Linked DNA regions of Homo sapiens: all the other regions are reported to be linked to region 1. Evidence: microRNA targets listed by miRTarBase, many of them from high-throughput screens and not tested one by one. Region 1 holds a microRNA gene; each other region holds the end of a gene's coding sequence.
Evidence for each region. Region 1 holds the annotated microRNA hsa-miR-647 (GUGGCUGCACUCACUUCCUUC, at 2,864-2,884, shown strand). A microRNA usually pairs through its seed, bases 2 to 8, with sites in the 3' UTR of a target mRNA and lowers its output. Matches are read on the target gene's strand: a 7mer-m8 pairs with bases 2 to 8, a 7mer-A1 pairs with bases 2 to 7 and ends in A, and an 8mer does both.

Region 2: miRTarBase lists IRAG1 as a target of hsa-miR-647. The part of its 3' UTR that is shown has no 7-base or 8-base seed match.
Region 3: miRTarBase lists ZNF609 as a target of hsa-miR-647. Seed matches in the 3' UTR shown: 7mer-m8 at 950-956 and 8mer at 1,831-1,838.

What each region holds. Positions count from the first base shown.
Region 1 is chr20:63,941,487-63,945,574 of GRCh38, reverse strand. MIR647 (microRNA 647) reads left to right here and starts at 2,849; the gene lies at 2,849-2,944. UCKL1 (uridine-cytidine kinase 1 like 1) reads left to right here. Exons shown (of 15, transcript NM_017859.4): 6 at 841-1,030; 7 at 1,117-1,178; 8 at 1,906-1,922. MIR1914 (microRNA 1914) reads left to right here and starts at 4,031; the gene lies at 4,031-4,088. RefSeq lists enhancers at 1,832-2,543, 2,544-3,257.
Region 2 is chr11:10,572,763-10,576,762 of GRCh38, reverse strand. It overlaps IRAG1 (inositol 1,4,5-triphosphate receptor associated 1), which reads left to right. Exons shown (of 21, transcript NM_130385.4): 21 at 188-3,668. The coding sequence ends at 431. All of the region lies in intron 1 of IRAG1-AS1 (IRAG1 antisense RNA 1), which reads right to left. Among named protein-coding and RNA genes, the nearest start is that of LYVE1, 6.1 kb to the right of the region's middle.
Region 3 is chr15:64,681,175-64,685,174 of GRCh38, forward strand. ZNF609 (zinc finger protein 609) reads left to right here. Exons shown (of 10, transcript NM_015042.2): 9 at 135-213; 10 at 518-4,000. The coding sequence ends at 208. Among named protein-coding and RNA genes, the nearest start is that of OAZ2, 20 kb to the right of the region's middle.

The DNA of each region.
Region 1 (4,088 bases):
TGCCCTGTCCCCAAGGCCTCCACACTGTATAGGCCTAGGCCAGCCACTCCCTACCCCAACCCCAACCCCAGGCATGCCACAGCTGGGTCCATCTGCCGGCCCCAAAAGGCAGAGCGTGGCTGCCTGAGGCAGTGGTTCCTCTCCACCGGCTGAGGCCTGTGCGCATACCTGGAGTGTCCTTGGCGTTCTCGTCCCTTGCCGTGGTCCTGACGGACAGGTGAGGACCCAGGGCTGGTGTGTTTGAGAGATTTTGCTGTAGCTCAAGGGGGCCTTCAGGACACAGCTGAGTGTGACTCAGGTTGGCCTGATCCCAGGGCCCAGGTCCTGCCCCTTGTACAGGCCCAGAGGACTCCATCATCCGGCACATAGCAGCCCCCAGCCTCCACAAGGCCTCTTCACGGGCCAACTACTGTGTGCTGAGCATGGGGACAGACCCTAAACTCGCCACGTCCCCCATTCCCCAGTGTGTTGGTGCAAGTTACCCCAAGCAAAGTAAGGAGATCACATGTGCCCAGCCCCATTCCTGCCTGATTCCTTAGCCAGCCACCATGCCATGCCTCTTCACCTAAGCCCCTGACGGGCAGCACCGCATCCCCAGACACCCCCACCTCCCCACTCCTTCCCACCTGCCAGGGTGCCCTGGGGAAGTGGCTCGGGCCAGGCCCACGGACCAGGTGCAGACACCCCCACCTCCCCACTCCTCCCCACCTGCCAGGGTGCCCTGGGGAAGTGGCTCTGGCCAGGCCCACGGACCAGGCGGCCTCAGTGCAGGGGCTGGTCCCAGTGTCTCCATGCCCACTGCTGGCATCTGGCCACTCACTGGCCCGCTGTCTCCACCAGCTCCTGGACATGAAGATCTTTGTGGACACAGACTCCGACATCCGCCTGGTACGGCGGCTGCGCCGGGACATCAGTGAGCGCGGCCGGGACATCGAGGGTGTCATCAAGCAGTACAACAAGTTTGTCAAGCCCTCCTTCGACCAGTACATCCAGCCCACCATGCGCCTGGCAGACATCGTGGTCCCCAGAGGTGAGCCTGCTGGGCTGCCTGTTGGGTGGGTGTCGGGCAGGCCAACGGCCCAGCCCCCGGTCACCCGCCCCCCCATCCCGCCCCAGGGAGCGGCAACACGGTGGCCATCGACCTGATTGTGCAGCACGTGCACAGCCAGCTGGAGGAGGTGAGCGGGGTCCCACGTCCCCACGGCCTAGCCCCCAGCCCCTCTACCCACTTCTCCGCTGCCACCACCCCCAGTGGCCTGGTCACCTCATCCCCCTGCGTTCACTGTCCCCTGCCAGGTGCCAGCCCTGAGTGTCCTGAGCCTGCTTGGCCAGTCAGATTGTCCAGCCCAGACCCCATCCCGTTGTGCTGTGCAGGGCCTGGGTTCCCTGAGGAAGCTGGGGTGGGGGTACAGGTGCTCAGGACCCAGCCGAGGGTGCAGCCCGCTCAGCACACCCAGCCTGAGCTTTTGGGAAGACAGGCATGACCTGCTGGCCCAGGATTGTGGGGTTTCACTGCTGAGTCCCACGCCAGGCCAGGCTCCTCTCTTTCTCAGGGGGTCACCCCAGGAGCGACACCCCCACCAGAGGTCCCCTGCTCCCTGAGGCATTCTATGGCTGGGCCTTGGAGCCTGAGTGGCTCTGAACACACTCCCTACCAGGATGTTGAAGGCCTGAGGCCTGCAGAACAGAGCCCAGGGTCCTGGCTCTGATTGCCCCAACGCAGAACTGCAGGTCTGGCCCAGGTGGTCCCCAGGTTACAGGCATTAGAAGCTTGCCACCCCCCATGGCTGGCTGTGTCCCCGCGGGCCTGCAGCATGTCCATTCCTGGGTGGGGGTGGCCTGGCCGCCTGCCCTGGTCACTGACGCGCCACCGTTCCCTTGTGTCTTCCTGTGTTGCTGCCACAGCGTGAACTCAGCGTCAGGTAAGACTTGCACAGCTGTCTGCACAGATGGAGGCACTTCCAACACCTCCAAGGAGCTCTGGGGTCTGGGCTGTGATCCAGCCAGGCAGCTGGCTCTTCCCCAGTCACAGAAGGGGTGGTGTGGAGTGGTCCCAGCCCTGCTTCTGCCTCCCCTTGCTGGCAGATGAGGACACTGAGGCACAGAGACGTGAAGTAGCTTGCCCAGCGTCACGGAGTCCTGACCCTGTCCTGGCCAGACTTTGCTGGAGGCTCCCCTGACTCCTGAGTCTGTCTATGGGATTTGACCCCAGAGAGCACAGCTGTCCTCCTGAGCCAGCACTGCCAGGCCTCTGGGGCAGTGACTACAGACATGTCCCAGCAGCCAGGGAGCCTGCTGTACCTCCTGTGCCCAGCCTCACGGACCAGTCAGCTTTCCCTGGTTGCAGGTGGAGGGCCTCGCGCCTGTCCTCCCACCCACCCGGGTCCTGCTTGCCCCAGCTCTGTCCTCGCAGCCCGCACAGCTCTGCCAGCAGGAACTGGGCAACTGCAGCAAGAAGCTTGGGCTGGGCCGGGGCCGCATCCCACTGTCCCTCCCCAAGGGCAGGCATGCAGGGGGGTCAGCCACAAGGGACCTGCCCTTCTCCCTGCCTTCTGTGGGTTGGGAGGCTCCTGACTGAGCCACCTGGAGGGAGAGCCCTCACATTCAGAGCCCTCCAAAGAGTTTGCCAAATGTTGGAAATGCCTCCAGGGCCCGTCCACCAGCCGTCCAGCTTCCGGTGCCTGCATGAGTCTCCGCTTGGCCCTCTCCTCGGCCTAGGAACCCGCAGGTCTTGTCCCGTCAGGTTCCTCCTGAAGCTTTTGTTCTGAGAGGAAAAACTTTCCAGGGTTTCAAACTTGGAAAAACACCTGAACGCAGCCAGACACATTTTCCGTCGTCTGGTCAGCCAAGGAAGTGTTGGCCTGTGGCTGCACTCACTTCCTTCAGCCCCAGGAAGCCTTGGTCGGGGGCAGGAGGGAGGGTCAGGCAGGGCTGGGGGCCTGACCGCCCACACTCCTCCTCAGGCCTGCGGGGAACGCCCTGCTCCCCAACTAAGCAGCCTTCTCTTTGTTCTCTTCCTTCTCTCTGTAAACCCCCGTTTCCTGCCTTGTTCCCTCCCTGAACATGCTCTTCACCTGGCAAGCAGAGGAAGCTACGTTGGGATATGTGAGCAGTGTGCTCCGTGGTGCTGCTGTGTGACCCGCCTTCCCGTAGCCCCTTGCCCCGCTGCTCCCGCTAGGCCCTCTTTCCTGCTCCTGCCCCGCCCCTTTCCCTGCCGCTGTCACGCCTCTTTTCTGCCCTGCCACACCCCATTTCCGGCCCCGCCCCTTTCCCTGCCGCTGTCACGCCTCTTTTCTGCCCTGCCACACCCCATTCCCGGCCCCGCCCCTTTCCCTGCCGCTGTCACGCCTCTTTTCTGCCCTGCCACACCCCATTCCCGGCCCCGCCCCTTTCCCTGCCGCTGTCACGCCTCTTTTCTGCCCTGCCACACCCCATTCCCGGCCCCGCCCCTTTCCCTGCCGCTGTCACGCCTCTTTTCTGCCCTGCCACACCCCATTCCCGGCCCCGCCCCTTTCCCTGCCGCTGTCACGCCTCTTTTCTGCCCTGCCACACCCCATTCCCGGCCCCGCCCCTTTCCCTGCCGCTGTCACGCCTCTTTTCTGCCCTGCCACACCCAATTCCGTGCCCTGCCTCTTTCCTTCCCCTGCCACACCCAATTCTGTGGCCTGTCGCTTTCCTCTTCCTGCCCCTGCATCACCCCCTTTCCTGCCCCGCCCCATTCCCTGCCCCTGTCATGCCCCTTTCCGGCTTTGCCTCCTCCCTGTCCCACCTCTTTCTTGCCTCCACCCCGCCCTTTTCCTGCCCGCTCCTAGACCTGCTGCTGCCCCGGCCATCCCCAGGCTTGGGCAGCGGGGCGGGACGGGACAGCCAAGAGACACTGAGCCAGCTTTGCCCCCCACCCCCCTCTCTTGAGGGGCCGCGCACCACCTCGGGGAGGAGCCAGGGCGGGGCCTGACCCCACAAAGCTTTAGTTCCCCCGGGGAGAGGCTGGGGACAAGCTACCCATTCTGGGGTATGACACCTATCAGCACGTGTGAGCCCGCCCTGTGCCCGGCCCACTTCTGCTTCCTCTTAGCGCAGGAGGGGTC
Region 2 (4,000 bases), not on the chromosome of region 1:
TGGATATTCTCATTTAGTATGCTTGGGGTATTTTGAACAATTGCTGCCAACCCAATCTAGGCACAGCTAAGTTTGAGAACTATTGCTCAAGACAGCATGGAAGCTATCCGCAGAGAGAACTGTGGGTCTGTGTATCATATGTGTGCCCAGTATACTAAAGCCTCTGCATATTTTTTTTCATTGACAGCAAACTTGAAGAATTGGTCCATTTCTTACAAGTCATGTATCCCAAACTGTGTCAGCACTGGCAAGTGATCTGGATGATGGCTGCAGTGATGCTGGTCTTGACTGTTGTGCTGGGGCTCTACAATTCCTATAACTCTTGTGCAGAGCAGGCTGATGGGCCCCTTGGAAGATCCACTTGCTCGGCAGCCCAGAGGGACTCCTGGTGGAGCTCAGGACTCCAGCATGAGCAGCCTACAGAGCAGTAGGAAACCTCACACCTAGCCAGTGCCCTGCTCTGAGACACTCAGACTACCACCCTTTCCCCAAGTATAACGTCAGGCCCAAGTGTGGACACACTGCCGCCCATCCCATCAGGTCATGAGGAAGGGTTCTTTTAACACTCGGCACTTCTGTGGGAGCTATTCATACACAGTGACTTGATGTTCTTGGAGGATCAACAAAACTGCCCTGGGAAAGCATCCAGTGGATGAAGAAGTCACCTTCACCAAGGAACTCTATTGGAAGGGAAGGTCTCCTGCCCCTAGCTCAGGTGGCTGGGGAGAACTAAAACACCTTCACTGGTGGTTGGGGGTAAGGAGCGGGGCACGGGGGAGGAGGAGGTAGGGGGCAGTAAAAAACTTACTCTCTTTTTTCCTCTCTGTAATTGGTTATCAGGAAGAATTTGCTTAATGACTAACACCCTAAGCATCAGACCTGGAATTTGGAGTTGCAAAGTGACTATCTTCCCATTTCCCATCTCATTTTCAATAACTTCAGCCTCCCATTCTTTCCTTTGGAATGAGAGTTTCTTTTTACAGAAGTAGGAAAGGCTTCTCAGAAAAAAAAAAAAAAGTATAGGCTGAATTTAGCTCAGTGCTTGAAATGGGAAGATATGAATTATTATATACGCATCTGTCCACACATACACACATACTGTTGTGTACACACACACAACATGCCTGTGCACAGAGCCAACAACCCTTCAAAAGTGTGCTCTGGGTGTGTACCTCTGGATAAATAAGATGCATGCCAAGCCAACCCACAGATTTTCACCAGTGTGGGGCAGTCACCAGGCACCTGTTCAATGAGCTGTCCACATGGATTGAAGATGTTTTAAAAACACAGAAAACTCATGGCTTCAATGGCAGACTTACTAGTCTCCATTTCAAATGCCAACTCTGAGCTGCTGTACAGCACAATCTATTCCCTATTCTCTCTTTGAAAACAGTTAACCCACCTCACAGGTGAATGAGGAGAGAAGATGTGCTTTCTGCTTCAGTCTCTTACTCTGTGTGTGACCACATGCAAGAGTAAACTTGCACCTCAGTGCTTCAGTTCAAATGGGGTTTCCAACCCCAGTATAATTAGGGGTGTTTCAGAGCATCCCCAGTTATTTAGCACAACACTGAAGGAGCACATCCCCTCTCCATTTTGACTTCTCTCCCCACTTTTACAGCCACTGCCTTCATCAGTTTTGTAGAGGTTTGATTTCCATGTGGGTTTTGTTGTCATTGTTTTGCATTTTTGTTTTGTTATTGATATTGTTTGCTTTCATTGCTAAAACTCATATACGACTTACTATGAGCCAAGCACTGTTCTCAGTATTACATAGGTATGAATTCATTTAAGTCCTGAAGAAAAAGAAAAAAAAATACGAAGTGGATATTACCCTTCCCATTTTCAAATAAGGAAACTGAAGCACAAAAAGAACAAGTAACTTGACAAGGACACCCCGGTAGTAAATCATGGGGCTGGAGCTCAACCCCAGGGTAGGCTGGCTCCAGAGCTGTGCTCTCCTTGACTCTTCTGATGGTCTCCTAGCTGGAAGCCTCACATTTCAGTCTCATTCCCCCAAGTGGCCCATCAGCTACTCCATCTCTGGCTCCCCAACTAAACAGTTTCTCTCATAGTGCTGGACCTCCACTCACTAGTTTTTTTTCCAGCTGTTCTTCTCTTTTCTTCAGGTCACTCTTCTCGACCGAGTGCAAAAATTATCCCCTCCATACCAGCTTTGATGACCTTCCTTCCATACTCCTCACCAGACACAACATAATAGGTCACACACTCCTCTGTGCTTTCTGGCACGTTTTAAACATTATTATTATTGACCTTTACCTATAGTATACCATGGCCTATTTATGTATCCATCTCCCCTAGCATTTTTCCTCAAAGACAAGAACCATGTCTTACCCATCTCTTGGGTAAGTGCCTAGCATGGTGGCTGACGCTTGGGAGGGTGTCATTAAATGTTGCTCAAAAGAACAAGCAAACATTTAAGGTGGTGGAGAGCAGCCTGGGGACAGCTGACATGCTGCATGCTTCTCAGTACCAGCACCATCACAATGCAAAAAGCAACATCTTTCTTAACCTCAGCTTATTCTGTTTTTCAGTCTACTCTGTGAGAGAGCAGGAATGAGACCAGACTAGCAACACCATTGCCAAGCTCAAGGACTGGGCTCAATGCAGTCACTCCTTCAGAGAGACCCCCCACCCCAAGCATGCCCCACTTTAAAATAGCATGTTTATTGAAGGGGGCATCCTTTACAGTAGCTAGAAAATGACTGAGGCCCAAGCCAGGGTTGATCAAGGATGTGCCATTAAGGTAAAGAGTTACAGAGCAGGGCAGAGGGACTCTGGGGGCAGAAGTGGATGATTTGCCCGGCCTCTTCCAGGGGGTCTGGATACAACTGAAGGAGCTTTAGCTACATGAGGCCCTCAGAGCCAAAGACAGGATGCAAATAGAGTTCTAGAGAGTGGCCGTGGAAGCAGAACTCCAGGTGGGGAATGTTCAATCTCTGCCTCCCTTAAAGCAGGGCCAGGCTCAGCTGGCCCCATTGTTCACTTGGTCACAAGTTTCCTACCTTTGTTTCTGGATGAGTCAAAGGCCAGGAAGGCAGTTATGGAGAGCTCCTGCACCTCCAGCTGCCCCACAGAAAAGCCTGCAAGAGTACTTCCAGGCACAGGCCCTCTCCCACCCTATTCCATTTGTAAGCAAGGGAGGTCGAGGAAAAGGACATCTCCAAAAGGGAGCATAAGAATAGCCATATATACAGGGGCTGAAAAAGTGCTCATGAGTCCATCTTTTCTGGAAAGCAAAGACCAGCCTGAAGCAGTGGGAGCTGCTGCCCAAGCGGTAGTGAACTGGAGAGAAACAGGCCCTGGATTTTCAGTGAGGATGTGGATCTGAAGAGTCCCCCAAATGCCTCTGAAGTCTGACATCTCTGCTTAGCCCTAGGAGTCTGGTTCCCTGCCTTCAGTTGCAGAGTGATGTGTTTGTGTCATTGTTGATGTCACCTCCTAAAAAGACCTTCACTTTCTGGCTGCCACAAAGCCATATGTGTTGCTCCCCATATACAGCCTGACAGAGTAAATGGAGAGGAAGTGCTGGATTTGTGTATCACTGGCTATCAGTTCCTCATGTTGTTAAGCCTCACACAGGTGTGCTAGCATTGAACTGTAGAGTGTCACATACCTGAGTTTGAAAATAAAAGCACATTTCCAAACCTCTGGCAGCAGCCAAATGCCTCCTCATTTTATGGAGTTGAATTACAGTCTTACCCCAACCCAGAATTAGATGCCTTTGGATATATTAGTGCATTCCAGAACCAAGTCAGAGGTCCCCAACCCTTGGTCGTTATACTATGGGCTACCTCACAGGGGCTGGATCAGTTCCTCCTCTTCCCTTCCCCATTCCTGATCCTGGTTTCCTGTATCTTCCTGGTCTATGATTTTTTTAATTAACACAGTTTGCTGTGATTGAGTCTGCTGAGTTTTTAACCAACCTGATTTCCACAGCTGAACTATTTTTGTCTTTCTTACAGCTAGCTGCAGGGGA
Region 3 (4,000 bases), not on the chromosome of region 1:
TATTATCTATCTCCAGCAAATATATCTGGCTGAGTATCAGATTTTTTTTTCTGTCAGCACCCCAAAACTCAGGGAAAAAGATTAATGGAAGGTTTCTGTGAGTGCTACACTAACATGTTCTCCTGCTTATTCAGGGCTTTCTTCTACAGCCATTGTTGCCAGCCAACAAGGCTCAACTCCCTCACTCTACCCACCCCCCAGGAGGTGAGAATGGTAAGTCACTTTTATTAATTTGGGGCAACACATAAAGCCGGGATAGTTGCTACCTGGATCACAGAATCCCTAGGTGAGAAATAGCTATGAGGGGTCAGCAGTCTGGAATCCATGGAACCCTGGCCAAGCCTCTTGTACAAGAGTCTCCCGTGAAGCCATGTGCATCTGAGAGGACCTGTGGAACACAGTGTCCCCTAGGGACCAGTACTGGCCACTCCTACAATTCATTTTCTTGGAGTGCCACCTTGTGGTTTTTTTACCAACAGGCTGAGTGCCTGGTTATCTGTCCATGTTTCCCTTGCAGACACCAAGTGCCCGGATAAAGTCAGCTTCACGGGCCCGGACTGGCTTACCCAAGGAGGTGCTGAAGGTGCCGTTTAGACATCAGTTAAATGGTGTTGATCATCCTGTTTGCCGTTTCCACCATGACTGAAGGCAGACCCTTGGCTATCTCACCTCCACCAGACCTCCGGACTACCTGACCCTACCTCTTCCTCAGGAGCTGGAGAGCTGGTACTTAGCAAAAATATTTATTCTCTCAGCCACAGTTATGACTATTGTGGCCTCTGTGGAGATGAAGGCACGGGAAGCAACCAGGGGAACATGGCCTCAGCCCAGAGAAGCCACTGCTCTGTTCCCCAAGCCCTTGGTCTGCTGCTGGAGCAGTACCAGCCCCCCCGCCCACCAGGGAGGGACCCCCACCCCCAAGCACTGGGTAAGGTCTGAAGACAGCACAGCAGCCATACCCCTCACCATCATTACCACCATCACCAGATTCTGCATCTCCCTAGTGCTTTGCACCCTGGGAATTGGCAGCATGTGGAGGAACTAGAATCTCAGGAAAGAAATTGGGGGTTGTTTTCTACATAATTGTGAAAACAAGGTCTTCAAATGTGGAGACTTCTCCCCATTTACATGAGCACATATAAACGCTCACAACCTAGCCTGGAAAGGAAGACCAAGGCATCTGCCCCAACATGGCCTTGAGCTGCCTGTGAGGCAGGGGGCAGGGGTTCCAACACCAGCACAGGGCTCCCCAGGGACACTGGGAGCAAGCTGGTGCTGGAGCATGAATGACGTCTGTGAAGTAGAACCTGCGTCCCCACTAAGTCCTGCTGCTTCTTATTCCCCAACTCCTTGCCCTTTTCCCTTCCCTCCTAACCCCTTGGTGCCTTTCCCAGGGGGATCCCCACACTGGTCTTGCCTCTTCTTTTCCACTGCTTGGCTCTTAAGCCTCAGGCAGATAAACTAGTATTCCCCCCAGCTTGGGGAACCTTGGAGTCTGCCAGGTCACCTTAGGGCAAGGCCCAGAAGGCAGCCCCTGGGAGCACCCAGCAGTTCTTGGAGATGTCCTGTCATCTAGCCATCTGATATCTTCCTCATTTGAGGCCACAGATATATACAGCCCAATTCCTCTGTCTACAAGTACATGATTTTATATAGCTCAGTCTATAACCTCCATGTGGGCCAATATAAGCTGTGTTTCTTGGTAACACATATTTTGTTTGAGGGGCCACTGGCCATGGGAGGTTATTTGTTCCTTAGACCCTGGAATAACACATCCAAGCCATTACTTATTAGAGTCTCAGAATGTACTCAGTGGAGCTGTGCTTTGAGGCAGCCAACATTTCTCTGCTCTCCTTAGAAATGCAGTCTCCCAATGGAAGCTTTATACTCTTTGTACTGGGAAAGTGAGGATGATTTGGTAGCTTTATTGGGGTCATGTCTTCCCCAAGGTGTGGGGAGCTTAGCTTACTTGGCTTTTGAGGTATCATCCCTCTGTTCTCCCCTCCTATCTTTCCATGACCCTCTGGATTGAGAGAGAGAGATAAAGACTGACAGACACCAGTGTAGGCTGGAAAAGGGAGTGTGTGACCAGAGTGCCAAAAGTGACTAGGAGCAGGAACTTGGCTCCGACTCAGTTTGGAAAATGGGAAATAGGGGACAGTAAGCACAATGCCCAGTAGTAGTTGATTTCCAAGGACCCTGGAACCCTACACTTGAGAGGCTTAGGGTCACCATCTGCTCAAGAGGATCCCCTCTGATCTACAGGCCTTTTCCCTAGGTTTCTGCCTCCTCGTTTTTGTTCAAGTTGGGTTCTGAGTCCTCCCCAAAAACCATTGTTTTAGACCTCTTGGCAGGGCCCCAAAACAGCCTCCCTCATACCCATCATTCCCTCTGCCTTCTGCTGCCCTCATGGGCAGTGCTCTGAGCAGTGACCTCCCTTTCCTCCGTGGAAGTAGCTAGTGCAGACACCGTCATCCCACCCCACCTGAGTCACCCCAACCAAGAGGGTGACTGAATTTCAGCCTGATTATGCCCTCCTGGGGCTCCTGTGAGGTGGAGCCAAGGTTCCCTCTCTGTTCCTGTTTGTTTTTAAATATTGTTGTGTGTTTTGTATCTGTGGCACTGGCCTGCAGCATACTCTGTATATATTGTAAAGAAACCGTTAGGAGTAATTTTCTTTTGCATTGGGCAGGCATGGCCCTGCATTCCTGCCCTTTCCACTCATTCTGTAACACAGAGGACGAACTTCTGTATTAGCTGGGCAGCCTTGGGTTCTCCAGAAGAGAACAGGTTTTTCTTTTCCTTTTTAATTTTTCTTCTTAAACATTTGGCTCTTTGATCCTCATATCCAAGTCTCCCCTGAAGAGTAGGAGCTGCTCAGAAGAGCAGGTGAAAGCCACCATGGCAGATCCTGATGCCTGCCGGGCCTAGTCTTCCCTCTGAAATAACATGAAGCAGCAGCTGTGGAGATTCTTGACAAGTGCTGAGTGAAAGATTTGCTGCCCACCTCTACATGGGGAGGAGAAACACAGGTGGGAGCTACCTGTGGCATCCATGACCTAGTCAGAGGGATGAGATGCTCAGCAGGGGTCCCCATCCTATCCCACCCCACAAACAAAGGCTGGAAAAATTTGCTACCAAGGGCCAAGACCACCAGACCAAGCCTGTTTATGAGCCACCCCTGCCCAGGCCCTCACAGACATTGCTCACGGGGCTTCCCATAGAGGAGAAGCTAAAGAGGGAGGGGGCCTCATCCCCAGATAGATCAGGCAAGGCTTGGAGAGCTGCTCTTTAGGATCCACATCAACTACTTCCTCATTTTAAGGTATGGCAGTTCCCTTCATCCCCTTTTCCTGCCTTGTACATGTACATGTATGAAATTTCCTTCTCTTACCGAACTCTCTCCACACATCACAAGGTCAAAGAACCACACGCTTAGAAGGGTAAGAGGGCACCCTATGAAATGAAATGGTGATTTCTTGAGTCTCTTTTTTCCACGTTTAAGGGGCCATGGCAGGACTTAGAGTTGCGAGTTAAGACTGCAGAGGGCTAGAGAATTATTTCATACAGGCTTTGAGGCCACCCATGTCACTTATCCCGTATACCCTCTCACCATCCCCTTGTCTACTCTGATGCCCCCAAGATGCAACTGGGCAGCTAGTTGGCCCCATAATTCTGGGCCTTTGTTGTTTGTTTTAATTACTTGGGCATCCCAGGAAGCTTTCCAGTGATCTCCTACCATGGGCCCCCCTCCTGGGATCAAGCCCCTCCCAGGCCCTGTCCCCAGCCCCTCCTGCCCCAGCCCACCCGCTTGCCTTGGTGCTCAGCCCTCCCATTGGGAGCAGGTTGGGGCGAGCTGGAGGCCCGGGCTGGAGGGGCAGTGTTGCTGTTCATAGATTTTGTTCCATTGGCGTTGCTCTGTTGAATTTAATTTCAGTCTTCCTGATTCTTCCCTTCTGTAAAGTGTACATTACCAAGTTCCTTGTTTTTTTATATATAT